Linked DNA regions of Homo sapiens. The protein of the gene in region 1 interacts with the protein of each later gene in a pairwise test. Each region holds a gene or a part of one and is shown on either strand. Other genes may lie near its edges. The genes, in order: ACOT7, CAMK2B, POU6F1 and ACOT12.

What was found.
Region 2: the proteins of ACOT7 (region 1) and CAMK2B interact in binary tests that used the Homo sapiens proteins (3 or more experiments, as listed by UniProt).
Region 3: the proteins of ACOT7 (region 1) and POU6F1 interact in binary tests that used the Homo sapiens proteins (3 or more experiments, as listed by UniProt).
Region 4: the proteins of ACOT7 (region 1) and ACOT12 interact in binary tests that used the Homo sapiens proteins (3 or more experiments, as listed by UniProt).

The regions. Positions count from the first base shown.
Region 1 is NC_000001.11:6,264,761-6,271,784, forward strand, and holds part of ACOT7 (cytosolic acyl coenzyme A thioester hydrolase), read right to left. Parts: intron 1-7,024. UniProt on the Homo sapiens protein: Catalyzes the hydrolysis of acyl-CoAs into free fatty acids and coenzyme A (CoASH), regulating their respective intracellular levels.
Region 2 is NC_000007.14:44,217,575-44,224,598, forward strand, and holds part of CAMK2B (calcium/calmodulin-dependent protein kinase type II subunit beta), read right to left. Parts: intron 3,328-7,024; coding exon 3,252-3,327; coding exon of another isoform or gene 3,248-3,251; intron 3,137-3,247; coding exon 3,042-3,136; intron 2,721-3,041; coding exon 2,488-2,720; 3' UTR 2,486-2,487; intron 1,949-2,485; 3' UTR 1-1,948. UniProt on the Homo sapiens protein: Calcium/calmodulin-dependent protein kinase that functions autonomously after Ca(2+)/calmodulin-binding and autophosphorylation, and is involved in dendritic spine and synapse formation, neuronal plasticity and regulation of sarcoplasmic reticulum Ca(2+) transport in skeletal muscle.
Region 3 is NC_000012.12:51,215,040-51,222,427, forward strand, and holds the start of POU6F1 (POU domain, class 6, transcription factor 1), read right to left. Parts: upstream 3,024-7,388; 5' UTR 2,603-3,023; intron 2,267-2,602; exon of another isoform or gene 2,067-2,266; intron 1-2,066. UniProt on the Homo sapiens protein: Transcription factor that binds preferentially to a variant of the octamer motif (5'-ATGATAAT-3').
Region 4 is NC_000005.10:81,391,133-81,398,091, forward strand, and holds the start of ACOT12 (acetyl-coenzyme A thioesterase), read right to left. Parts: upstream 3,003-6,959; 5' UTR 2,983-3,002; coding exon 2,856-2,982; intron 1-2,855. UniProt on the Homo sapiens protein: Catalyzes the hydrolysis of acyl-CoAs into free fatty acids and coenzyme A (CoASH), regulating their respective intracellular levels. Preferentially hydrolyzes acetyl-CoA.

The DNA.
Region 1 (7,024 bases):
CCTGGCCTGGGGCCCTGCCCCCCACCCGTGGGATCTGCCCCACCCCTGGTGCATGCTGAGTACCACGCCTCGGCCCCGCTGGCCTCCTGGGACTGCCGGGTAGCCCAGGCATGGGGCTCATGTCCCACCTCGCTGATGGGCCTATTGACTGGGCTGGGTATGTTCAGCCAAGATGCTTTGAGGGGCCGCAGGAGCCACAGGTGGCAGAGCTCCATAGAGGAGACACTAAGGGCATGGCGGGTCAGAAGCAGTCAGTGAAGTGCCGAGCCCTGTGACATCCTCTCACCACCTTTCACAGCAGGTGACCTCCAAGCCCAGGGCCTGTTTGCTACTGGACTTCGGTGGAAAATGCACTTGATAATGAAACATGGGAGCTGAACGGAAGTGGAAAGGAAGAGGGACCCTGCATTCGCTGCACTCCCAGGAAAGCTGCACACAGTCACCACCCCGCAGAGAAGTGGGGAAAGCCAGCTGCACACGGTCACTGCCCCAGAGAGACGTGGGGAAAGCCAGCTGCACACGGTCACCGCCCCGGAGAGAAGTGGGGAAAGCCAGCTGCACACGGCCATTGCCCCAGCGAGAAGTGGGCAGATGCTGTGCTGCCTATGGCCTTGAGAAGGCCCCGCCCCGTACTGGGAGCAATAGGCCTGCTTTGTTGGGAGGGAGCCCTGTCACCACGCTCTGGACCGTACACTCAGGAGGCGGCACCTTGGACCCCAGGGACCCCATCTCATTGGTCTGGGGGCAGAGCCAACTGAACAGGTGGGATTTGGCCCAAGACGGGGTTCTGCCCAGGACGGTCCTGGTTCATGCCTGTCGACGGGCTGCGATTATGAACGGCACCCCCTTTCACTCTGTCTTGTGGCCCCTGGGCAGGTGCCACCCCTGGAGTATTAGGTGGTCACTTCTGATGTCCCATCTGTCCCAACGCCATGTTCTGACTGGCCCCACCCTGGCTGGGAATTCAGGTTTAATGAGCTGTGCTAATTCCTCTGGGACATTTCATCGCAACATTTTGAGGGTGTCTGAAAGCCAAAGAGATGGGGCAGTTGCCCTTCATTTCATCCACAATGACACCAAACTGTACAGCTATTTTTGGGCCTAAGTGTTTCATAGACAAATGGTATATTGGCAAGAGAGAGCGCAGTCAGCCAGAGGATGTAATGTCAAGTTATACCAAATGCCTCCTCCCCTCAGCTCTCTCCAAAATCAGTCTCTAAATGTCACCAGGTGTAAACTGTCAAAACCTCGCCGGCCTGGAGCCAATGGAATCTTCGGGTATTTAAAGAAATAGGTGGCGCTCCTTGCAGCGGTCCTGGTCCCCCTTTGAAGAGTCTTCGGTGTACACAGGAAAACTGCTTTTCCAAGACACTTTATTGAAGAAGTCCCTCCCGCTGCTACGGTTTGATCTCTGGCTGACTTTTAAAAATAAAATTTGAGGCTATGCAATTTGACCTGAAACAGTCCAGGGAAAATGAAATGTTCTTTCTCAGTTCCAGCAGCACTTCTCAGTGGGCAAGACCCCTGAGCTTCCTGGGCTTGGAGGGCACAGAGCGCAGCCCCTGCAGATGACAAGCTCCCCTGAAGACATACATGGCTACATCCTGCTGGGCACAGCTGAAGACCTCTGTGCACACTGAGGCAGAATGTGCTAGATCAGGGCTTCTTGAACTTTTAAGTGCATCTGAGTCATCTGCCAGTCTTGTAAATGCAGATTCTGATCCAGTGGGTCTGGGAGCTGAGACTCACTTCTAACAGGATCCCAGGTGACACAACGCTGTGGCCCGCGGACCACATCTGTGTAGCAGGGCCCTGCCCCCTTTCCATCTGCCGCTGCCCCAAATGGGGCACATCTGAAGTGGCCAAGAATGCAAGGTCAAAGCCACCAGGATGGGATATAGGGGCCTTGTCCTCCCCTTCCCCTGTGGAATTGCTTGGTGATGTGGAGGGAAGCTGCAGCTTCTTGTCTGCCTGCAGCGGCAAGGCCGAGGCTCAGCAGAGGAGCGGCCGCCCACAGCCTGGCTTCCTGCCTACCTTGAAGACCCTGTAGCAGGCAGAGCAAGAGCTGTAGGGTGGGCATGGGGTCCCAGAGCTGGGCGACAAGGCAACAGGACCTGGTGGGGTTGGTACTGGGTTCTGCTGGCTTTGGAGTGGCTGTGGCAGCCCTGGGAGACATCGGGTTGGGAGCAGGAGAGCTGGGGACGGGCAGGCTGGATCGCACTCAGGCGCCTCCCAGTCTGAAAGCCTGGCCCCTCGGCTCGGGTCCTCCCTCTAGCTGGTGGAGTATCTGCCCTCCACAGAGAGGAAAGACGGCAAGGAGCTTGGAAAGAAAAAGAATCCTTGAAAGCAGGAGAGAGCGAGCCTGGCCCAGGAAAGGCAGCTGGAGTGAGAAGGGACACAGCTGAAGCCCCCACCCAGCCCACAGGAGCCAGGTCCGGCCTGAGGAGAGGCAACTTCCTGGGAATGTGCAGATGTGGGAGACTGGCGAGAAACTTGGTCCCCAAGTGCCTGAGTCCCCAGCCACATGCTCTCAGGTACCAGAGGACCAGGAGGGGCCAAGAGAGGTGGCAAATGGCTCTGCGGAGCCAACGCCACCAGCTTAGGAGCTGTTACCATGGGTGTCCTGGGGGGCTGGTGGGAATGGCCCGTCCAAGGCCAGGGCCCTGGAGAGGGGCTGAGGAAGGGCTGCCAGGTCAGGAGATGCCTGCCTGCCTGCCTGCCTGCCTGTCTGTGTCTGCAGATCCTCTGGGCTCCCTCCCCAACTCCACTGGGAGATGATGCCTCTCTGATGGTCTGTACCAGGCAGGTTTGGGGATCTATGCACTAAATGGCCTCTTACAATAAACAATGCACACTGGGATGAAGGTTCTGAAACGTCTCAAATCTGTTTAACTTTCGCCTTTCTCAAACTGAGCTGGCCAGGGATCCCTTTCATAAGGAACCAAGCTCTGCCCCGCCTCTGGGATGGGCTGCTTCAGGCAGAGGCTTGCCCACCTTGGGACCCAACCATGCTGTGTGCCCTTCCTGGGATGGTCTCTTCATTCCGCCTGGAAACCAGCCCAGCATCTTCAACCCTGGAGCCGGGTGTGAATCCTGATTCACCACTGACTCACATCGACTCCTCTTTTGTAAAATGGGCCAATGTCCACCTCACAGCAGAGTTGCGGGGACCAAATTTCTCCCTGCAGCCCATGTTCAACCAGGCATTAAAAACAACACAGTGAAAGAAGCCGGTCACAGGGTCTGCCTATCACCCATTTACACGAGATGTCCAGGAGAGACATATACACAGAGGCAGAAAGTGGATTGGCGGTTGCCTGGGGCTGGGGGACCAGTGGTGGCTAAGGGGTGGTGCTTCTTTTTGGTGAGATAAAAGGTTTTGAAATAGACTGTGGCGGGGGATGTCCACCTCTGTGAATAGAAGAAAACCTGCTGAATCGTATCCTGGAAGTGGGTGAACAGAACGGCATGTAATTACATCTCAGTAAAGCTGTTAAAAGAGAAAACCTCCACAGTTGAGAGCTCTCTGTGGTGGGGGAGTAGTCAGGGCTGTCAACGCATAAGACTGGCCCTGAGCTAATAACTACACAGGAATTCTTTCTTCTCTTTACTTTTGCGTATATTTGACCTTTTCTATAATTAAAAAGCTAGAAAAGCAAAAAACTAACTAGACCTAGATCTAGGAAAACCAGCCCCTCCTTTCTTCCCTAGGCACCAATGATCTCCAGGCCCCAAAGAGACGGGGACTTGGCTTTACAAGCGGTGGGCTGCGGGCAGAGCTGAGGGAGCCGTCTGGGCTGTGCACAGGCGCGATTTTCCCCACTCCCCGCCAAGAGGCGCTAAGAGCTAACTCAGGACCATGCTCCTTCTGGTCCAGTTCATAGGTGTGTGATGGGCCCCAGGCCCCACGCACGCGGCACGGCCCGAACGGCAGGGAGATCTCCGCCCAAGAGCGAGAAAACCTCCAGGGCTTCATACAGCCCGGTCCTCACCTCTGCCAGCCACACGCAGCAGTGGAGCGGAGCCCTCGAGTCCCCTAACGATCTGGCCTCCATGACCACCTGGGAGTGGAATAGGAGTAACTTCCTACAGCTCTCGGCATCTTTACCAGAGATGTGACCACAGCCCTCCAGCCGCCGAGGGCGTGGGAGGACCACCCAACTCTGGGTCTGCAGAAGGCACTGCAGACGAGAGCCCTCCCACCCCTTTGCCCCCACATGGGCTGTGCACGTGGGGCAGGGACTACAGCGATAAGGGGATATTCCCTGCGCAACCCATGCTTAGGGCGCGGCAGGCTGTGCACATCAGGGTCTTCCCAACAACCCCACCAAGCAGCACAGAAATGATTGTCCACTTTTACCAATGAGGAAGTGAAGCACAGACAGGCTGAGTAACTTGCCCAAAGTGACACAGCGGGTAAGGGGAGAGCCTCCATTTAAACCTGGGCATGGGGGCTGCCCTCCAGGTCGTCCTATGCCGAGGGACTTTTAGGGGTGGGACTCGTCCATGGGAAGTGAGGAAGGCGATGGACCTGCAGCGTGTCCACGATGAACCAGGGTCAGGGGCTTCCCTGCCTCCCCTCACCTCACCCCGGCCCTCGGCACAGCCTAGGAGCACTTGCTGAGCTTGGCCTCCCCCAGGCGGGGGCCCTGCCCTGCCCTCAGCCATATTATCCCAAACCACTACAGCTGCTCCCACCCCAGCGGCCACCAGGCCATCGAGCATTCCCAATGCCACAGGCCGAGGGCTGTGACTGCTTCTCTCGAGGTCAGTTAATACACAGCCTGAGGCGGGCACGAGCCCAGGTGCAGGTCATTCTCAGGGTCGGCTCCAGGCTGAGGGAGAATCTGGTGCCCAGCAACGGGCCCCAAGGCGGCTCTGATGTGGCCCTGCTCTTTAATATTTGCAGCAAACTCATCAGCCAGGCTCTGCCCTCAGACAAAGCAAATGCTGTCTGATGATGGATGGATGTGTGGGAGCCTGAGAGCCTGTGAGGGCCCCACTGCTCTTCCCGTCTCCCGGGATGGTAGTATCTGCTGGATGTTCCAGGCTCTGAGACAGAGTCCAGACCAGCCCAGGAGCCTCAACGTCACTGCGTGGAGTGCCCGCCCATAAGCGCTGCCCTCCCAAGGTGCGGGCGGCCTTCCTCCCTGAGTGCCCAGGGGCGCCCTTCCAGGGTGAAGGTTTATGAAGATGGCAGTCAAGGGCAGGGATGTCCCAGGTGCCTGAGGACCCAGGCTCACCACCCAGGGGGAGGTGGAACAAAGGGCCGCGGGGCGGTGTCTGTCCCATGGTAGGTTACGGGCTCACTGCTGGTGGGCAGCCAGCCTCCCCAGGTCATGGCTTTGCTAAATAGTTCTCCTACCCAAGTGACAAAGGGGCCACCCTGTCCCGCTGGGTGAGAAGCTGACAGAGCAAGACAGATGTCTCCAGCACAAGGCCCCACCCACGGCCCGGCTGCTGCCTCCTCGCAGCCATCTCCCTCCACCCAGCAAAGTAAATAAATGCATACGCTGTTGGCTGTTGCTGTTTTTAATGGAGGGTTGGGGGTGGGTGGAGGACGAAAGAACGCTCTGCGGGAAGACAGATGTCTCTCTCAAGTCCCCGAGGCTGCTGGTGGGGGAAGGACTGGAGCCTCTGGGGCACTGGCCAGTGGTGCCAGCTGCCGGGCACCCACCTGTGGCCTCAGGCAGGCTCCTCCGAGCCTCTGGGGCTCCCCAAGAATATGCCAGAGAGAAAGGATGAGGTGGCAAAGGGCAGCTCAGGGCACATGACCCCCATGTATCCCGGGCACCTGCCTGATGGAAGGGATGGGGCAGCATGGCCAGGAGCAGGACTCTGAGTCCCACGGGCCCAGCTGTGTGGCCCAGGGCCAGGTTTGTTCACCTGGAAACAGGAACTCAACAAAGTGACATGGCAAAGTGCTTCCTATGGTGCCGGTGCACGTGAGCTCCTACGTGTGTGTGCACATGTGTCTGCGGTCCCTGGTGCATGTGTGTGTGTCTGTGTGGTGGTCCTGCTGTCCTCAGAAATACCTGAGGCCAAGTGCAGCCTGGGAACTGCTCCAAGGACTGTCCTGCTGGTGTGTGGCTGCCCCAAAGGAGGGCCAGATGGCCCGGGGTCACCTTAACGCAGCGGGCCCTTTAGGATGTCACACCCACACATGGGGACGCAGGGGTGGGGAGGGTCCCAAGGTAGCAGGTTGACAGTACGCTCCCTCCCTGGTGCTCAGGGAGCACCGCCTGGCACTCAGCACCAAGCCCCTGGCTCCCCTGCAGCCTAGTGGCTGCCTGGGCCTGGGGTCTGCATCTTTTTCCTCCCTCCACTTAGTGCTTCCTGCCACTGCTGTCTTCTGGGCTCTCTTCCACTGGAGGGGAAGCCTGTGGCTTTCAGAGCCAAGTGCTGCAAACCAAATGTTTTCCACTTTGCATTTTCTGTGCTTGGAGAACACACATTTGGAACATGGTATGGAGGACGAGTGACTAAGTTCCACCCTCGGTAAAATCAATAGCTTGTCCTTTTTGTAATTAATGAATGGCGTAAAAAGGGTTTCCAGTGGTGATATAACAACTTCCTGTAAGCCTGAGGGACACAGACCTTCTTAATTAGGAAGCCACGTAGCATGCCCTCTCCCTGTTATAACAGGAGACAAGAGGGGTCTTGGGATAATCACAAAAGCAATGAAAACATCTCATTATTGAGGACACTCAGCACGGCCGGGCGAGGGGCCTTGTGCATGGAGAAGCCAGCAATGATGAGCTTAGCACCAGGACCACCAGCCTCACAAGCACCTGTGCCCCCAGGGTCTTGCTCCACCTGAGGACCTTGCCTTAGCGGAGCCTGTCCGCCATCCGCTGTGGCCTCTCCGCCATCCGCTGTGGCCTCTCCCAGCAGCTGCAGGCCTGGGTTAATTACCTCCTCCTCCACACCCACCCAGGACTGCACCAGCCTCCAGCAGAAAGCAGCCGGAAGTCTCAAATAATGAGATCATTGTGGAGAGTCATAAACACCCTCACCAGGGGCT
Region 2 (7,024 bases), on another chromosome or scaffold:
CGGAGCCCGGCAGATGTTTACCCTGTGTTCATGGATGGGGACAGCTGTCCTGGGCACAGCGTGGACGGAAGATGGTGTCCACTCTGAGTGTTCATCGGTGGACAGTCCCCTTGGAGTTTAGGATCCTGTGTCCTGTTCCCCATTCTGTGCCCCTCCCTTGGCTTGATTTGTAGGGGAAGATAAAGAAAATCCTTGTTGAAAACAATGTGAATTGAAAGTGGGCAGGCACTGGGGCAGGAGCCCCTGACCCTCTGCAGTCAGGGCTTGTGACCACCCCCACCCAACCTGGCTTCAGACCCACCCTGCAGCCCCACCATGCTCGGGCTTGCCCTGTCCCCGAGCTCCCCCATGGTACACACCATCACAAGGGGCCGGGGACCCACCGCCTCGAACCCAGGCAGCCGACGCTCAGGAGCACAGGGCTAGACCCTGCCCTCCATCCGCTGGTGTCCTGGGCCCTGTGCCCACCTGTTTCTGTCCCCAGCCCGCCTTATCTCCATAGCTGCATCCCTGGCCCACCTAGAAGGTGCCCTCACACGCACTGCAGCCCGCCAAGGCACTGGCACACCTGACACTGCACGGGCAGCACTGCCCTCACGCCTCCCATGTGCCCTAGGCTGGCTCCCACTGTAGCTTTTGCTCCCTTCTGCTCCCGGCCCAGATTCCAAAGGCACTCCCACTTCAGTAAACCCCTGCACAGACCCTTGTCTCAGCCCAGAAGCTGGGCAGCCACCACCTCTGATCCCGCTCTGCCACTAGCTGCACCACCCGACCAAACCCCAAGCCCCAGGCTTCCCCAAACCCCATCAGCAGACGAATATGCCCAGACACAAAGCCTGGCCTCCCCTCCCAGCTTCAGCTGGGGGCTCAGGGACTTGAGCGAGGCCCGCAGTCCTTTGTCAAAAGTCTGCTCCCCCTTGCGGGCTGCAGAGAAGCCGAACAGGCTGGGGGAGGGCCGAGGGGCGGAAACAGGGTTGGGAGCTGCCAGTGCATCTGCTGCTGGCCAGCAGAGAAGGGACAGACACCTCACACAGGAGGGGGGCCAGCCCAGGCAGAGTCCTCTTGCCACAGCTGGCTGTGTTGGAGCTGTAGCCAGCAGTGCTGTCTCTTGCTCGGCGAGAGGCCCAAAACTAAGCTGTGCCCCTCTTTGCACTTTACTCCCCCAGAAGGACCAGAGCTGGAGCCCTGGGTGTGTAGGGGCATCTCTGAAGGCCTTGGGGACGGGACTCCAGTTTCAATACTCCAGGGGGTGAGGGGCCGGCCTGGGCTCTGCCGAAGGGTTGTCCGTGCTGGGTGTGTGGGGATACCGGGCACGGAAAACCCACACCTAGCCCTTCAGGGGATGAAAGGAAGGGAAGGGAAAGCAGGAACAACAGCAACTCTCAGGCACAACTAGCGGGAAAGGAGGCAGCCCAGCGGGCCCCCACAGCCCCTCCCAAGAGACAGCTGACAGTCACGACAGCCAGCGAGCACACCACGTGGAGCCCATGCGTTGGCAGGAGGATGCAGACACCTTAGGTGTGGGGTGTGTGCGTTACCTACAAACTAACACCGTTCAGCACGCGACGGGGGCCTGGCAGACAAGTTCATGTCCCAGCTGGTCCCCCAGAGGCCAGGAGCACAGACGGACACACGTGGAGCTTGGGTGGGGAGTGGCCCCACGAATGCCAGTGATTTTTACAGCTTTTTCCTTCCTTTAGTTTTTTTTGTTTTTTTTTTTTTTCATTTCATCTGATGTCAATTTTTTTTGTGGTTGTCGTCGTCATCTTGTTTTTTTTTTTTTTTTTTTTGTTTTTTTTTAACAAATCACATCTGGTCTTGTTTTTCTGCAGACACAGGCACCAGGGGAGGGAACGAGGCAGACACAAACATGCGACAGGCAGGCCGTGTGCCCGAGGGCAGTCGGGCTCCAAACACCAACTCTGTCCGGCGAAACCAGGGCGCAGCTCTGAAATGGGGCGGGTGGGTCAGCTCCTCAGCAGCCCCCTCTCCCATCCACCCCCAGGCTCTGCTGTCTGCCATGCGGCACTGCAGAGAGGGTTAAAGTCCAGAAAAGGGCCCACTCGGGAGAGAGGTTCAAGGTGCCCAACCCAATTACTACTATCCCTGTAAAACTGGGCTCTGGGCCCGCTGCACCCACCACCTGGGGAACGCCCATCTGGGGCTCTAACAGTCCTCACAAACAGGGCATGGTGCCCAGGACTGTGCTGCCCGGGGCCCATCCACCTGCAACCCACCCAGCTCTGGCCAGTGTGGACTGCTCAGGCCCTCACCAGCTCCCCAGTCCTCTGGGGAGGCCTGCCACACCCAGCCTGCCGTGGTCCCTAATTTGACATCATTCCTGTGGCCTCACCAGGAAAGCTCAGGGACTTCCCAGGCATGGCTCTGCACAGGCCCCACCGCTCCCCATCGCCTCCCCAGGCTGCAGCCACTCACACCACCGCCACCCCTCTGCCCCAGCTGTCACTTAGCACAGAACACTCACCTTCACTGCAGCGGGGCCACAGGCGCGCCCGAGCAGTGGAAGTGCACGTTCTGCCACTTGCCGTCGCGGCGGTGCCACACGCGGGTCTCCTCAGACTGGCTGGTGCGGGGCCGGCCCTGCCCGTCAATGTACTGCGTGAGCCGGATGTAAGCGATGCAGGCGGCATCCTCTCCAATGACGTGCACGTGTGGGTTCAGGATGGTCGTGTGGATCGGCTTGCTGTTCTTGGCCAGCACTGTGGACAGCAGGCGGGGCGGGGGTCTCGGGTTACCATGACTGCCCTGGTGCCCGTCTTCCACCCCACCAGCCTAATCCTTTCCCTCTCTCAACTCCCCTTATTGGGGAGGCTCGGCTCTCCTGGGAGCAGCATGGGCCCCTCCAAGAGTGGGATTCTGGGGGCTGGGTATGGCCTCTGGCGGGGGAGAGGTGGCTGGCCAACCCTGGGCACAGAGGGGACAGGGCTTCCATAGGCAGCCACCATGCTGTCCCTGGGAGGGGCCGAGAGGCTCTCCTGGGGGCACCGCCCCCTCATGCCCACCCGGGCTTCCTCACTCACGGTTCTCGAAGTAGAATCTGTGGAAGTCCATCCCTTCAACCAGGTTGCCCAGTGCTTCAGGCTCAAACGAGGTCAGCCCTGGGTCACAGATTTTCCTGGGGGCCAAATCCAAGTGAGGAGGGGCCCCGTGGACCCCTGACTCTGAGCAGGCCCCCCCAAGGGTCCCACATCCTTGTCCTGCACAGCCCCCCCCCAGCCCCAGGGACTCACGCGTAGGCCTCAAAGTCACCGTTGTTGACGGCCTCGATGAGCTGCTCCGTGGTCTTAATGATCTCCTGCTTCCGGGCTGTGGGGAGACATGGCCAGGTGACCACTGGGCGCTGGCCCATTCCCCCCGGACCCCTCCACACAGCCCAGGGGAGGGCCTGGGGGAGCGCGAGCTGCATCCATGCCGTGTTCCTGCCGCTATTTGCAGAAGAGGTCCTCTCCGCCGCCCCCCCTGCATCACCAGTGGCTTCCTCATTTTCAAGTGCAACAGCTTCCATCTTATTTTTCTTAACTAAAGTATTTTTGAAGAACAGAAATATTCTATCCACATTACAAAATGCCTGGAAAATGCAGAAAGAGGACAAAAAACCCACCCACAATCCACTTGGAGGTCACCTCCTGGCCCCACGTGCTGTCCGCCACAGTCTCCCTCCTGCCCTCCCGTGAGCCAGCCCCTGGGCCCACCAGGCCTGGCCCTGCGCTTCCCTGCAGCTTCCCGGCCCCACTCTCCTCCCGAGCCTTGGGTTCTTAGTGCTTCCTTCACCCAGCAGCTCTGGTGAGGGGGCTACTGAGTGCAGGCACCAGGCGAGAAGGCAGAGACCTGCCTCAGAGAAGGAGCCGTCAGCAAGGCCACCCGGAGGCCGGGGAGGAGGAAGCAGCAGGGGGCGGCCACGTGCGGCGCAGGCTGCAGGGTTCCCCGGAGCGATGACCAGGGCTGTCCCCGCAGCAGGAAGAACGAGCGTGGTCTCTTGTTCCCCGCTTTTCTCATAGGAGCCGCATCCGGCTGGCTCCACCTGCTTGCAGTCCGGGGCCCACATGCTACCCCTGCAGACATCCCTGTTGCCCCGCACCCCCATGCCCGGGCTACTCCCGGGCGCCTGCCTGCAGCTCCTGCCCGCCCCCCTTGGATTCCAACAGGCCACCCAGCCATGCTGGTCCTCACTGGCCTCCGGGGCGCTCACTGGCAGCCTGCATTGCTGCTTTAACTACAGCTTATTTTCATTGCAAAAGATTTTAAACGTATGGAAGATGTGGAGAGAATAATAGAACCCACACTCTACGGATTCAAATCTTAACATTTTCCTATTTGCTTTAGACGCATTTTTAAAGAAATAAAGCACCGCACATGTAGTTTGAAGATGCCTGTGTTCTCCTCAATCTTGCCGCATTCACTCTCCTCAGGCAGAACTACTGTCCTGAGTGAGGTCCCTAGCCGTATCTGCGAGGATATATACGCAGGCACGCACATACATGCACACTCACACACAGAACACACATGCACACGCACGCTCACCTATACACACGAGTAACAGTGGTTTCTCAAAGTAATTCGTCCGTGGAAAAAACTCAAACCCCCAGAAGTGCACCGGAAGCAGGTTCCTGGGAACTCTCCCTGTGGGGGAAGTCTCTGCACTCCCAGCACTGCGCTCTGTGACCCTCAGGCTGCTGCAGGCCGCACCTGGGACACCTGCCCTCAAACAGCTGCCCGCCCTGCAGGACACCATTTTCACCAGAAGGCAGGCCCTGTGGTGACGTTTCCACTCTTTGCTGTGAGTGCTGCCTCCAACGGCCACATACATGCAACCTGTCTGTGGTCTAAATTCCCAGAGGAGGGAATTCTTTTTTTTTTTTAGATGGAGTCTCACTCTGTCACCCGGGCTGGAGTGCAGTGACATGATCTCGGCTCACTGCAGTCTCTGACTCCCAGGTTCAAGCGATTCTCCTGCCTCAGCCTCCCGAGTAGCTGGAACTACAGGTGCACACCACCACACCCAGCTAATTTTTGTGTGTGTATATTTTTAGTGGAGATGAGGTTTCACCATATTGGCCAGGCTGGTCTCAAACTCCTAACCTCAAGTGATCTGCCCACCTCGGCCTCCCAAAGTGCTGGGATTACAGGTATGAGCCACTGTGCCCAGCCAGAAGAGGGAATTCTCAGCACGCCTGGTGGTGGGGTTGCCTTTATCTCTCTCGCCAGACCTCTGGGAGCTCACACCACCAGGGAGCCCACCTGGCAGGTGACTGAGTCCACAAAGGAGGCGCCACATGCCCGGGTGTGCTCATGCATGTGTGTGGGGCACTGCCTGGGAACGCCTGTGCTGCACCTGTCTGCTCTGGGGCCTCATGTCCCCTGCTGCACAGTGACAGCAGGAGGAGCCCGATGGCACCTGAGGAGTGGGGTGCACACATGTTCATGTATGTGATCACATGCATGTGTGTACACGTGATTGTGCATTCATGTGCATGTATGGAAACATGCACATAAGCAGGACGGCATGTGAATGTGTGTAGATGAAGCTCATACATATGCATGAGCACCTGTGCATGTGTGTGTGCAGTGCCTATGAGCGTGCACGTGTCGTGTGTGCCTGTGTTGTGTGGCGTGGGCACATGTGCACTCTTGGGTTGTCCCTATCTGGAAAGGCCCTTGCTCCTGACCCAGCTGTACTTCTGCTGCCAGCTTGTCTCCCTTTCTTTCCTAACTTTCATCTAGACCATGTCATGGATGGTCCTCAGGGCAGTCTTGCTACACAAGCCCAGTTCCCACCCACCTGGTGGACCCCGGAAAGCTGGCCTCTAGGAAGGTAGGCTGCAGGATCCAGAAGCCCCTTCCCCTCCAGTTCCTGCTGCAGCCACCACGAGTCCCATTCCTGCCCCATTCCACCTGCCCAGCTCTAGGAAGGCACAGGGCTCTGTCCCAACACATGCTGTGGCTGTTCCTGTCCTTGCCCCTGGGCCCCAGGAAAGTAGCATATGACACTTGAGGCCCGCCCCCGCCCCAGCTGCTATGTTCCTGCCTCCTCTCCACCCTCTGCCTGGCACCTGCCTCTCCCCTGCCTCATGCCTCCACTTTCACCTGTCCTTTCCTGGAGGTGGCCCCAAGCTTCAGGTCTGACCTCTCTTCCACCTGTAGCCAGTCCTTCCAGCAGCCCCCAAGCCAGCCCCCACTAGGCTGCCTGGCTCTGCCCTCCTTGCATCAAGAGAGAAGTCTGGTGTCCACATGTCCCAAACACCTCCTGTCACTTAGTTAACCTCCCTTTCTAATGTACAGAGACAGCTGCCCCTCCCACTCCACAGGGGTTCTCAGGCGCACAGCAGCAGGCAGCTGGAATGGAGAAGAGAATGACATTATGTCATTTGGTTTCCAGTCTGCTTTGGTTCTATAGTCACCTTACACTAATGGTAAGTGAAACTAATCTTCTGTTTAATGAAGTAATATGCAGTGCTTTTAAACAAATTGTAATTAAAATGGGAGTTGATGGGAAGAGAAAGCGTGAAGTAAACAGAAGAGGAGATGCATGGTCAGAGTTCCAATCAAGAGTGGTAACCGTGCTGAAGTACGGGAAGCAGGTCCGTTGTGAGACCCACCCACCCATTCCACAGATGGGAAGCCTAGGCTGCCCCTGCCCTGCGGAATGGCGCTGCCCAGACCCCAGCTCAACCCAGCCCCCACTCTGCCTCCCCACATAGCACATGGGAGCTTTTGTGTCCTTGATATCCAGGCCCCTGAAGAAGGGCATGATCCCTGATGGAGGGAAAGGAGGGGGGCCCAACATGAAGAGGTGCCCGGGTCGGGAAACCTGCTGGCTGAGGACAAGCTGTCCTGGCAGTTCCAGAGACAAAGGGGAGGTGGTGGGCAGGGCCTGGGCTTGGAGGGGTCTGCACGAGCCAAGAGCCTCTGCAAGTCAGGCCTTCCAGGTGCCCTGACATGAACAGGAGCCTTTGCATTGCCTGTGGCTCTCTTGGGGTGAGGCAACAGGTCCAGGCAGGCCTAA
Region 3 (7,388 bases), on another chromosome or scaffold:
GATCATGTCTGCTTATCATCATATCCCTGGTGCCTAAGATAATATCTGGTATATAACTAGGTTCATGAATATGGGCTGAAAACAATTGAAGATACGAGGTCACGTCATAGCCACATCACTTAGCCTCTTATTATTTCCTACCTTTTCCCTCAAAACACACACCCTACTTCAAATGTTTTGCCTCCATTTCCAGTACTGGGGCTACTTAAAAATGATTTCAAAGACGTGGTACAGGCCGGGTGTGGTGGTTCACGTCTGTAATCCTAGCACTTTGGGAGGCCGAGGCGGGCGGATTACTTGAGGTCAGAAGTTCAAGACCAGCTTGGCCAACATGGTGAAACCCCGTCTCTACTGAAAATACAAAAATTAGCCAGGCATGGTGGTGTGCGCCTATAGTTCCAGCTAGTTGGGAGGCCGAGGTGGGAGAATTGCTTGAACCCGGGAGGTGGAGGTTGCAGTGAGACCAAGATCGCGCCACTGCACTCCAGACTGAGCGACAGAGTGAAACCCTGTCTCAAAAAAAAAAAAAAAAAAAAAAGAGAGATTTCCAAGGTGTAGTATTGGGTTCTGGAGAACCCAGACCACACTGGCCCCTTCCTAAAGCGCCCGTCTAATTTCTCATTCCAAGCCTTCCTCCTGTGGCCAGTTTCTCCTGCATCCCACTCTCTCTTCTGCCTCATGAACCCTCATTTTGACATGAGGGGTCAAAGGCAGGTTTAAAGGCAGAAGACCCAGCTTGAGTACTGCTTCTACTAGAGGTAATCCCTATAAGCCTCCGTTTCCTTATCCAAAATGGAACCAAATTATAGTAACCACCTCATGGGTTATTGTGAGGATTAAATTGATAATATTTATGGAAGGCACTTAAAACAGGGCCTAGCATGAAGCAAACACTATATATATGTTTGTTATTATCATTGCTATTATTTTGAACTGAAGTAAAGCATGCATATAAAAATGTTTTAAATTATAAAGCATTTTAAAAATGTAAAAGATGGCCAGGCACGGTGGCTCACGCCTGTAATCCCAGCACTTTGGGAGGCCAAGACGGTTGGATTGCCTGAGCTAAGGAGTTCGAGACCAGCCTGGGCAACACGGTGAAACCCCATCTCTACTAAGATACAAAAAAATCAGCTAGACTCTGTCTCAAAAAAAAGAAAATGTAAAAGATTACTCTGATAATTTTATGGTGAGTAAATCTTGGGGACAAGAATATGAGCTTATCCCAAGTTCCTTCAAAATGCAGAAAAACCTTACAGGAGCAAATTTTTTCTGAGTCACTTTTCTTAACTGCCAGCTAGTACTTCCAGGAACAAAACAGAATAAATGGCTACATACACACACACTGACACACAATCACTCTATGGTATTACCTTGTTAGTTTTAATGTTTAGCATCTACTTGTCCACCCCCAGAATAAAAACTCCATGATAGAAGTTTTGTCTGAATTGTTCAGAGCATGGCACTGAGTGGGTATTTTTGTTGAACTAATGAAGAAATGAAGTTCTACAGCAGATAAGCGGAGTACCAGGTCACAGAAGTATCACTTTGAGGACCAGGACTTGAATGAAAATGGAATATATGGAATTATTCCTCAGAAGGCCTCTGCCAGTCAATGGTGGCTGCCTTAGATTGCTAAATAAGGGGCATGGGACACATGTATATGAACAATTGAAGACCAGCCCTCTACTTTTGGAACAAGGAATTTGGGAAGGGCAGATGAGGTTAAAAATCTCTGCAAAGAGCCTCTTTTCTTTGGCCCAGGAATGCTTCCCGAACTCTTCTGATTTCCCCCTGCCCAGCCGCAGAGGCTATTCTGTGAAGGTTTTAGGCTTCCAGTCGGGCTGAGTGGGGTATTCTGCCGCGAAAGTGGAGGTTAGAGGGTATGCTGGGAGCTCCCTTGGCCTTGCCAGGTGAGCCTGCCCAGGGAGCCTGCATCGGGCCCATTATTATGACTATTTATTAATAATAATATCGATATTAAATATTTATGAAGTGCTCATGCTCTGCTAGAAGGTGGCCCTCCCATCACTGACCCACCCTTCCAGCAACGCCTGGGTCCCTACCCCCGGGTCCCACCGGTCGTCCCGGAGTTTGTTCATTCGGGAGAACCGTGACAGGTCACCCTGGCCGCCCCAGCTGGCCCTAACCGCCGGGAACCCAGGCGTCCGTGTTCTCCAGAGAGGCAAGGATCCGCTTCTGGTCGCCACTGGTTCTGTGTACAGAGCGTCCCCTGTGGTCCGCACCCCACAAGGGCTCCAGGGGCAGAAACGGGGAGGGGCCAGGTCGGGGTTCCCCACCGGGTCCACCTGGCGGCCGCCCCCTCCGCTCCAGGTCCAGAGCGGCCCGCGGGCGGGCGAGGGCGCGGCCCCCGGGTGTCTAGCCCCAGCTGGGCAACCGCGCGCTGTCCCGCTCCCGCAGCTCCCCGCCGCCCCGGCCCAGCATCCCGCCGCCCCGGCCCCGCGGCTTTTTTTCTCTTTATCATAAATATATAAATTATGCTAATTACGGGCATTGCATATTAACCAAACCCGAAACCTCCCCTGCCCGGCCCCCTCCCCCTCCGTGCAAACCCCTCCCCGCCCCGGACCCCGCTACTTACCGGAGCCCGAGCCCGAGCCGCCTTCGCCGCGGGTGTCTGGCGGCCACCGATTAGAGATTCATCTCACAGCCCGGGCCAGGGGGCCGGGGCCGGGGCCGGGGCCACGGCGGCCGCCGCCCGCAGACAAAGAAGCCAGTGCGGCTTGGCTGGGCTCGGCTCGGCCCGGGAGCTGGTCGGGACCCGCCGCCGCCCCCAGGCCCCCAGCCTGGGCTGGGCAGAGCCGAAGGGGGCTCCGCAGGCTAAGCCGGGCGGAGAGGGGACGGCCGGGAAGCGGGAAGGGGAAGCCGGGTGGGGGGGCGGTCAGGTATATATTTTTCTTCGTTCCCCCTTCCACGACCCCCCCCTTTTCCCTCCCCCCCTTTTTTCCCTCCTTCTGCTACTTGGATTTTTTTAGCTGCTGCGTCATGAGCATAATTTATGCAAAGAGCTTTGCCGCATGCTGCACCGCCCGCGCCAGCCGCCGGGGGCGGCGGGCTGGGAGGGCGGTCAGGGAAGGGAGGGGAGCACGGGAGCCAGGAGCGAGGGGTGGGGGTGGGGAGGGGACCCTCTGGCCCTGGCCGAGCGGGAGGTCCCGGAGGCTCTCTCCCGGGACAGGGATGGACGGTCAGTGGGTCTGGTTACTCAGCCCCTCCGAGGTGCCGCGGAGGTGGTTTCATTTCGGAAGGTGCCAGAGTAGGAGCTGGAGTCCGGACCCTCCATGCCACATGGCCTTCAGCTGAGGGTTGGGGCGGTGACTCCCGGCCACCGCCTTTCCTCTAGGTAGTCAACTGTCCTCAATGTTGAAAGTCAAGTTTATGTCTATCCCTCCCTCCCTAGAAAGGCGGGGGAACTCAGACATCGCTCAGCCAACGTGGAGAACCTCTGAACAGCTGTGCCCCAGCGCCAAAGCAGCGAAGGGTCCCAGGTCTCTCACCCGGTGGCGGCCGTGGGCTGTGTTGTCTAAAAGCAGATTTCCGGCCTTCTTGTCCAAGTAGACAAGGAAATGTGAACAGAAAGACAAAGTTCAGTGGAATGGTGAAAAACCTCTAGCAGCTTCTTAAGGTAGAGAGGGGACCAGAAAAGGGGTGGATGTGGGTGGCTGAGGGAAAGCAGATTGGAGAAGTGGTGGACAACTGAAAGAGGAAAAAGTTGGAAGACCAAAGTGGAAGCGTGGGAATGGAGAGAAGAACTGGGAAGGAAGGAGGCTCTGTAAATCCAGTGAATGTGGATCCCAATACTGAGGCCACCTGCTGTCATCCTAGGCTGTTCCCCCTCCCACCCTCTCCCGATATTTGGTGGTCTGAGGATAGCTAGAGGTAGATGGGTTAGAGGCAGTGTGAGAATGCAGTTGGAGGCCTCAGTCCTCCCCGGGACTGCTCCGTAAGGCCTCGTGGTGGAAGGGCATTGAATGGCCCGGCCTCGTCGTTAACCTGGCCAGTGGACTAGGCTGTTATCAGCTTGCTGTTTCCATCTGGAAGTGAGCAGGTACTGCTGGCGGCGGATTTATGAGTAACCAATGTATTAGGAGTCAGAATACTTAGGTTTTAGTCCCAACTCTTCCACTAGCCGTCCAGGCAAGTAATTTAACTTCTTCATTACTTATAAAACAAGGATAATATTTATAATGACATTTATAATGACTACTTCATAGGGTTAAGTTTGTGAGCCTGTATGTGAAAAAACTGAAAGCTGCAAGCTCTATACAACTGTAAGGTGTCATTCCTTGTACAATAGTTTGAACTCGTTTTAATGGCCCTGTGAAACTCTACTGCGTGGCTTGATATTACAGTTCTTGGGGTTTTTGTTTGGCCGGTAGTCCCTGTAGTTTCTCTCCCTGGACTGTGAATTCTTTGAGAGCACTGGTTGTGACTTACTCATGTTTGTATTTCCCACTACTCTTTATGTGAAGGAGGGGCTCAGTATTGCTGCTGAACTTTGTCACATGAAGGTTGAAACTTTTCATTTATGTCACTTGGTTTGGTGCTACACATAGATCAAAGGCTTTGGATAGCATGGATATCAGCGACAGTTTGAAGAAAGAAATATGGATGTGATCAGAGGAGTTCAGGGAGACATACATAAAAATGTTAATCACGGTTTTCTTTATGTTGTATACACTTCTGCATTGCTTAAATATTTGATGAGCATATATTACTTTTTGTTTCTGTGTTTATTGGGGCATAACATGTACACAGTATGTGTATACCTTGATAAATTTTTACATGTATATACATATGTACGTGTATGTATGTGTGTATACATATGTACGTGTATGTATGTGTGTATACATATGTACGTGTATGTATGTGTGTGTATACATATGTACGTGTATGTGTGTGTATACATATGTACGTGTATGTGTGTATACATATGTACGTGTATATGTGTGTATACATATGTACGTGTATATGTGTGTATACATATGTACGTGTATATGTGTGTGTACATATGTACGTGTATGTGTGTGTATACATATGTACGTGTGTGTGTATACATATATACACGTGTATAGATACGTGTATACATATATACATGTCTATATATACATGTATATACTCACACACATATATATATCCATGTAATCCCCACCCAAAACAAGATATAGAGCCTTTCCAAGACCTGAGGATTCCCTTATGTACCTTCACCGGCCATAAATTCCCAAAGTAACCATTATTCTGATTTCTGTCACCATAGATTGATTACTTGAGCTGATTCTTGAACTTCTCATAAATGGAATCAGACAATATGCAATCTTTTGTGTTTGGCTTCTGTCACTCAACAAAATTTTTTTTTTTGAGACGGAGTCTTGCTCTGTCGCCCAGGCTGGAGTGCAGTGGTGTGATCTCGGCTCACTGCAACCTCCGCCTCTCGGGTTCAAGTGGTTCTCCTGCCTCAGCCTCCCAAGTAGCTGGGACTGCAGGTGCGTGCCATCACGCCCAGCTAATTTTTTTTTTCTTTTTTTTTTCGAGATGGAGTCTCGCTCTGTCGCCCAGGCTGGAGTGCAATGGTGTGATCTCAGCTCACTGCAACCTCCACCTCCTAGGTTCGAGTGATTCTCCTGCCTCAGCCTCCTGAGTAGCTGGGATTACAAGCACACGCCACCATGCCCGGCTAATTTTTGTATTTTTAGTAGAGATGGGGTTTCACCATGTTGGTCAGGCTGGTCTTGAACTCCTGACCTCATGATCCGCCCACCTCAGCCTCCTAAAGTGCTGGGATTACAGGCATGAGCCACCACGCTCCCAGCTAATTTTTTATACTTTTGGTAGACACAGGGTTTCACCATGTTGGCCAGGCTGGTCTCGAACTCCTGACCTCAAGTCATCCGCCCTCCTCGGCCTCCCAAAGTGCTGGGATTACAGGTGTCGGCCACCACACCCGGCCTCAATATATGTTTTTGAGATTCATCCATGTTGTTGAATGTAGAAGTATTTTTTATTGCTGTGTAGTATTCCATTGCATAATTATACTACAATTTATCCATTCCATTATTGATGGGCATTTGCTTGTTGTTTGGGCCTCTTAGGAATAAAACTGCTATGAGCATTCTTGTACAAGTATTTTGGTGAACATATGCACTTATTTCTTCCAGGTAAATACTGAGGAGTAGAATAGCTATTCTATTTTATTTAGCTTTTGTCCATACTGCTAAATAGTTTTCTATAGTGTTTGAACCAATTTATATCTTTATCAGCAATGCATGAGAGAGTTCTAATTGTTTTACATCCTCACCAGTATGTGGTATTGGTAGTCTTCTTGCAATGAAAGTTTATTACTTTTTGGCTGGGCGCTGTGGCTCATGCCTATAATCCCAGCACTTTGGGAGGCTGAGGCGGGTGGATCGCCTGAGGTCAGGAGTTCGAGAGCAGCCTGGCCAACATGGTGAAACCCCGTCTCTACTAAAAATATAAAAACTAGCCGGGCGTGGTGGTGGGCTCCTGTAATCCCAGCTACTCGGGAGGCTGAGGCAGGAGAATTGCTTGAACCCAGGAGACGGAGGTTACAGTGAGCCGACACGGTGCCACTGCACTCCAGCCTCAGTGACAGAGTGAGACTCCGTCTCAAAAACAAAAAACAAAGTATATTACTTAAAAAATTTTTTTTTCTTTTTTTGCCTGGGCATGCCAAAGACCGCACCTGGCTTTTGTTGTTGTTGTTGTTGAGACAGAGTCTCACTCTTTAGCCCAGGATGGAGTGCAGTGGCACGATCTCCACTCACTGCAACCTCTGCCTCCTGGGTTCAAGCGATTCTCCTGCCTCAGCCTCCCAAGTAGCTGGGATTGCAGGCATGTGCCACCGTGCCCAGCTAATTTTTGTATTTTTAGTAGAGACAGGGTTTCACCATGTTGGCCAGGCTGATGTCAAACTTCTGACATCAGGTGATCCGCCTGCCTCCACCTCCCAAATTGCTAGGATTACAGGTGTGAGCCGCCACGCCTGGCCTAATATTTTATTATTTTTATTTTAAAATTTTACTTTTTTTTGAGACAGAGTCTTGCTCTGTCACCCAGGCTGGAGTGCAGTGATGAGACCTTGGCTCACTGCAACCTCCACTTCCCGGGTTCAAGCTATTCTCCTGTCTCAGCCTCTCGAGTAGCTAGGATTACGGGCATGCACCACGATGCCCGGCTAATTTTTGTATTTTTAGTAGAGATGAGTCTTCACCATGTTGGCCAGGCTGGTTTTGAACTCCTGACCTCAGGTGATCCACCTGCTTCGGCCTCCCAAAGTGCTGGGATTACAGGCGTGAGCCACTGCACCCGACCTATAGTATTTTGTTATAACAGCCCAAACGGACTAAGACCCA
Region 4 (6,959 bases), on another chromosome or scaffold:
TGGAGTCTGTCCTATGTATACATGATTCAAGATTTGCCAGATATCTGGGAAAAGATTATAGATAGATTTTAGGGCTCTGTCTCTCTGGCTCTTTCCTTTCTGGAACTTTCCCTTTTGTATTTCATTCAGTAGCTGTGCTTTTCCCAAACCCTGTCTTTGGGCTCTTCAAACCAGCAAGCCTGTGGGTTTTCCATCAGAACTATAGCTGGGAGCAGACTGGCATTTTCTTTCAGGCTTCAAGTCATTTATAAAACAAACACAGAAAAAGCCAACACCACTTTGTTCTTTCATGTGTTAACTTTCAAGTGTTATAAGCCTACTTTTGTTCACTTTTCACCTGCCTTAAGTCTCTTTTATTTAGTGTTTTGCCCAGAGTTTATAATTATTATCTGTGGGAGATTTTTTAGTAGGAAGCACTTGAACATCTTAGAAAAATCCTTAAAGCCCTTGGTGAAGAAAAGAAAGGGAAAAATGAACAAAACATATGACATGATCAATCAGATTAGCATCTTCAAAGATTACTTTAGAAGCAGTGTGGAGAGGAGACCAGAACGAATGGAGATGAGTTTGGAAATCACTGCTGAAGTCTGCATGAAACATGATGATAGCTTGGAGTAGATGGTCGCAATGGGGGTGCAGCAAAGTGCTTGGATTTCAGAGACTCCTTTAGGGGGTAACACTGATAGGACTTGCTCCATGCATAGAGTATGTGAAGTGAGAAGTAAGGTGGAGAGAGAAATATCAAGGATGACTCCTAGACTTTTGACTTGCTCAACTAGATGAGTTGGGTGCCACTCCAGAGATAGTAAACCCTGGAAAAGATTCACAAATAAAAAACCGTGTGTGTGAGATGTTCCAAAATAATACATGGACGTGTGAGATAGAGGATTACTCAGATAGCTTCAAGACTTTAGACTTAAGGGACTGGAAAAATAATGGGGCCACTGACAGAAGTAAGGATAGTGAGAATATTTCATCTTTCTTTAAATATTGAGAAGACATTTTGGAATCCAGCAGTGCCTAGGGGTCATAGAAATGCCTTGGGGGCCATGACTGGGATTGCAGTAATGTGGCTAAAGAGATAATGCTGGCCTATAAAAAACTCTGAGAAAATCCCAGAGAAATCAGTTTTATATTACTACACAGATTCAGTTACACCTTGGCTAAATAATGTCCCCTGCTTATGTGGTGCCTCAGGTCACCATAAAGTGTTTAACACAGGCGTTATTCATGTTGCCCAAACCAACTTTATCATACAGGTTTTCTTAATATTAGTAACATTATCAGTTATTAATATTATACTACTAATAGTAATGTAACTATTAAGGTATAGAGTAATTGATTGTCAATTGGATCTTTCCATGGTTTCCAAAGATGTCAGGTCATAGAAATGATGACAATTGCAGGTGGGCCATTGTTTCTCCATCACAAGACAGAGGCACTAAGCAAGGTAACTAAAAGTCACTTCAGTGGTCTCATAATGTATTCAGTTGCCTTGGAAACAGGCATCATTATTATTAGCAACCTCAGTGGTTTATGTATTATTCTTTTTTCCTATGTGTGGATTAATTTTGTATTCATGTTTCCATTGTTAATATAACCAATCTCAAATCCTGTTAAAAAAAAAAAAGGCTTAAACGAATCATTGATTTCTCACAATTGTGGAGGCAGGGAAGTTCCAAATCGAGGTGCTTGCCCATTGTAGGTCCTAGTGAGGGCTCTCTTCCTGGCCTGTGGATGGCTGTCTTCCTGCTGTGGCCTCACATGGCAGAGAGAAGCTCTCCAGTGTCTCTTCTTATAAGGACATTAATTGTATGGGACCAGGATTCCACTCTTATGACCTCATTAGCCTTAATTCTTCACTCCAAATAGAGTCACACCAGGGGTTAGGACTTCAGTGTATAAATTTCGGTGGGTGGTGTGGGGGATATAATTCAGTCCTTAATAAATGTTTTTGCCATTTTTACTGTCATTCTGTCACAAGAACACAGTGGAGTTTTCCAGAGACTACATAAGGGTGTGGTAGCAGCAGGGTGAATGCAGAAGCAGGTATGAGTAGTCAGCAATCCTCCACTAGCCAGACCTTAGAGAGACTCGCCAGGATGTAACCTTTATCACCACTCCTCTCGCTACACTTTTGTTCTTGTGGAAAATAGTTATTTCTTAATTAAAAATGTTATGCTAACAATGTAGTCCATTTCTTTTTTAAAAATAATTAAAAATTTTAAATTTCCATTACGGTAAATGTGATATAAATAGCCTACATAAACAAAAGCTGCCTGGGTGCGGTGGCTCATGCCTGTAATCCCAACACTTTGGGAGGCTGGGGCCTCCCAACACTTCAGGATCACTTGAGTCCAGGCGTTTGAGACCAGCCTGGGCAACATAGTGAGACCCCATCTCTACAAAAGCAAAACAAAACAAAACTCCCAAAGTCAGCTGGGCCTGGTGGCGTGCGTCTGTGGTCCTAGTTACTCTGGAGGCTGAGGTGGGAGGATCGCTTTAGCTCAGGAGGTCGAGGCTGCAGCGACCTCTGATGGCGCCACCGCTCTCCAGCCCGGGAGAGAGCTCAACAACAACAACAACAAACAAACAAACAAAAAACCCCGCAGAAGCTCTCTGGGCTCCTCACTTGTTTAATGGAATGAAGGAGTCCCGAGAGCCACACATTTGGGAACCACCGGTCTCGGCCATGCCCAGCGCGGGCGCACTGTTGCAACACCCCTATCCCTGGCTGCGCAGGGTTCAGCTCTCCGCAAGTACCTTCCTCGCCTTCCTACCCCCCCCAGCCCCCAGCCGCCGCCGCTCCCGCAGCCCCGGTCCCGCGCCTCCCCGCAGCCCCGGCGCCCGCCTACCCGCCAGGCAGGCGGTGGTGTCGATCCACTTGAGCAGCTGCCCCGCGCTCAGCTCGCCGCGCGCAGTGGCGTGCGCCGGCTGGATGGCTTGGCTCATGACCACCTCGCCGGGCGCCGGCCGCTCCATGGCCAGGGCGAGAGCGCTACGCCTGCGGCCCCCGACACCCCACCATGCCCGCTCCGCCCGCCCCGCCCTCCCCGCCCAGCTCCAGAGGGCACTGGCGCCGCCCGCCCGGGCCGCGAACCCCTGGCCGCCAGGTGGTGGGAGCTGCGAGTGAGGGGGCCCGCACTGTCATCCCAGGACTATCGCGAGTGGGGGAAAACCAGCGCTCTCGGGTCTCAGGAGAAGTCTGGGAAGTGCGCGGGGAGGGGGCTCCCGGGTAGACAGGTCTGGAAGGCGGCTCCCCGAGAGCCGGAGCGCGAGGAACAGCTTTTGAGATAAAAAAGCTGTTACACTTTCTAGAGCTGCTATCAGTGACTGTACAAAGCAGTCCTCATTAGGGAAACAGTGTCTCCAGAAAACCTCCAGCATCTAATGGATTGGTGGATGTCTGACTGTCAGGGGAGGCTGCTCCAGGGAGCACATTTACGATGGAGAACTGGAAACCCGGAGAAGTGGAGCAAGCAGCTGAGGTGATAGGAGCCGATAAGCGACCCGATCACCTGGCTGGAACCCAGGGCTCCTGACTGTCCGGAATAGCACGAAGAAGCCTAGCCGACTCTCACGAATTGGTGGTGCCTTTTCATCCTTATATTTTTGGCTTGCCAAGCCTCAGCATGGCGACATCAGAATGGAGATTCTGGTATTTTTCTTTCCTTTTTAAAAGATTTTTTTTAAAATGAAAGTGAAGAAATAAGGAAATGTTGACTTGATAGCTTTTAGGAGCCTCTGTGTATAGGTTTCAGGACAATCCAATCATAAATAGGAATTGCATGTTTTCACTGAGGCAAGCATGAAGTCTGACTTATATAAAAGGCATTAAAATAACTTTTAAAAGCAAACAAAAACTTGTGCATCCAAGATGGTCCCATTATGTAGCTATACACTTATTTCAATGATAACGTTATTACATCGCTTTTGGCACTCCTCCTTGGAAAATGCCTTTTTAATGACTTCTGTATTGAGAAATCATAATTTAGGAATTGATAGATTATCATATATTCACTCCATCTACCAATAACTCTGTGAGAGTCATTTATTGACCTTGGACTTGGCCATGTGGCTTGCTTAAGAATGGAATGTGGAGAGATAGCAGTGTACCACCAGTCTTGCCTTTAGAAGCACCGTGTTTCTGTTCTCAGGAACATCTGACCTCTGCCATGAGGTCAAGTAGCTGCCTATTAGCATCTGGGTACCAGACTGAATTCACGTATTGCAGAGGCATCTCAGCCAGCCGGAGGACTCACAGCCTGAAGCAGAGCAACCCAGCAGACATGAAGACTCTTGAGTGAGACATAACTACTTATTGTTGTGTGCCACTGTGATTTTGGGGGTTGTCTGTTATGCAGCAATAGCTGACAGTTACATGAGTGAACTGTATTAATATTTGGGAAGTTTATTAAATTACTGGAAATAAAGTTTGCATTTAGGCTGGGTTGTATTATTTTGGGTAAAAAGTGGTGACTAAAGTGGTGATATTGAATTATGTGTATGGTTGTATACTTGGTTTCTTATAAACTAAAGAAACTTAGGCCAGGCGCAGTGGCTCATGCCTATAATCCCAGCACTTTGGGAGGCTGAGGTTAGGTAAATTGCTTGAGCTCAGGAGTTCAAGACCAGCCTGAGCAACATGGTGAAACCCTCTCTCTACCAAAAATACAAGAATTAGTTGGGCGTGGTGGTGTGTCCCTGTGGTCCCAGCTACTCAGGAGGCTGAGGCAGGAGGATCACTTGAGCCAAAAAGGCAGAGGTTGCAGTGAGCTTGAGTCTCAAAAAAAAAAAAAAAAAAAAAGAAAAAGAAGAAGAAATTTCAAAAATGTTTACGCATAAGTGTAAGAGGATGGGTTTCCAAAATGATTTTCTTGAAGGGGACAGCATGTGTATATTTGTGTGTTTGTCTAGAGATGTTGCTTTAAAAGCAGACATGGTACACAAATTCACTGCTGTGTTTTCTTATCTTTATTATCTCCTGTTTAGATGTCTTCAGATTATGGTTTCATATCTTTTGTTGGTTTCATACTAATTTTCATTTTACTATTCTTGTGTTTTTCTGAATGGTCCCTTTCTTCCTTTTACAATGAAAATGTCATCTGCATGCATGAACATTTGTTACCTCCATTTCTCTCTGGTGTCAAAGATTTTTACTATTATGCTTGAATAAAAGGTCGAGTTTCATTTGTGTTTAGAGACATTTTTGAAGATAAGCAGAATGTGAAGCCAGCTTGATTTTAAAAGTTTGTACACAGGAGCAGGAAAGCTGATCCAAAAAAGTGTGGGAAGTTCCACAATCACTAGAATAACGAGAAAATCTTTAAAATGCTGGAGTGGGAAGGGGAACTGGACAGTCTAAACTCTTATTCTAGAGATGAGGAAATGAAGTGATTTCCTTGGGTCACATTGTAAGGTAGTGGCTGGGTTTTGTGAAAACTAAGAACAAGGAACCTGGAATATAAGTAGAGAGGTAGAAAAAAAAATGCTTTCTCCAGAAACAGAGCCTCTGACAAGAATTTGAGAGCAGACAGTTTATTTGGGAGGAAATTGCAGAAAGCACTGGTAGGGGCATCAAAGTGTAGTCCCCAGGTAAGCAGCCTCAGCCTCACCTAGGATCCTCTTAGAAATGCAGAATCTCAGGCCGGGAGTGTTGGCTCATGCTTATAATCCCAGCACTTTGGGATGCTGAGGCAGGAGGATCACTTCATCCTAGGAGTTTGAGACCAGCCTGAGTAACATAGAGAGACCTTGTCTCTATAAAAAAAAAAAAAAAATTTAAAAATTAGCCAGGAAAGGTAGCATATGCCTGTGGTCCCAGCTACTTTGGGAGGCTGAGGTGGGAGGATTGCTTGAGCCCAGGAGGTCGAGGCTGCAGTGAGCCATGATTGGGCCACTGCACTTCAGTCTGAGTGACACAGTGAGACCCTGTCTCGAAAAGAAAAGAAAAGAAAAAATTATAAATGCAGAATTTCAGGCTCCAACTCAGACCTACTGAATTAGAGTCTAAATTTTATTAAGATTCCTAGGTGATTCAGGGGCACATTACAGTTTGTGAAGAACAGCCCCAGCCATCCCTCCCACTGGCATGAACCCTGGGGTTTTTATCCTCTGACTGGCATCCTTCATTGACTAAGGGCTGGTCCCAGGAGATGAACTCCCCAGGACTTCTGCAGATTTCAGAGCAAGAGCAAGCTTTCAGCTGGAGCTTTATCTCAGTAGGACAGGAAGACGCTGTCAGCTTGGACTAGGACTCAGAATGGTGAGTGCCGTGGCCATGTGGGCAAGGCAGAGAGCCAAAATCCTTACTGTCCTGAACAGCAGAGGCAGCCGGGAGCCTTTCCATTGTGGGAGATATGTCCCAGACAGAGGGTTTGCTAGTTCAAGTACTTCATACAGAGATGAACTTGATTAGCCATCAAACTCTCTCTCTACATTTGGTATGTTTTAAAAGGTGTCAGGTCAGTGTTTCCAAATTCAAATACAAATTTATAAGGATGTGGTTCAAAGTTTAAACTCAGAGCCCCTAAGCAAAAATTCCAGGATGGGTTTTCTCAGCTTTTGGCCGCCAACTTCTTGACTGGAGGGTCTCCTGTCCTTCTCTGCCCCTGAACCCTGCTCTAGGGATGGCAGTGACTTTGGGGAATGGGTTTTCTGCTTGGACTGTCCCTCTTAGCACCTGGAGCCTCAAGATAACCTTGCTCCTGTTTGTCCCTGCACTTCCGGTGGCCCCTTCTTTCTGTCAAGCATTAGGTGTAGAACCTAACAGCCACCACATTTGTGTGGAGTACAGAGCTTTATTTTGTTTGAACAAAAGCCATGTGTATAGAATCTAATTTTTCTGCTTCCCCAGATTTGTTTGGCCCCACTTTCATCCCAGGCCATTGATTACTGCTCAGTGGAGTCCCTTTGCGGTCACCACCACTGCCTGTGAATATGTTGGAGCACATTGTTTT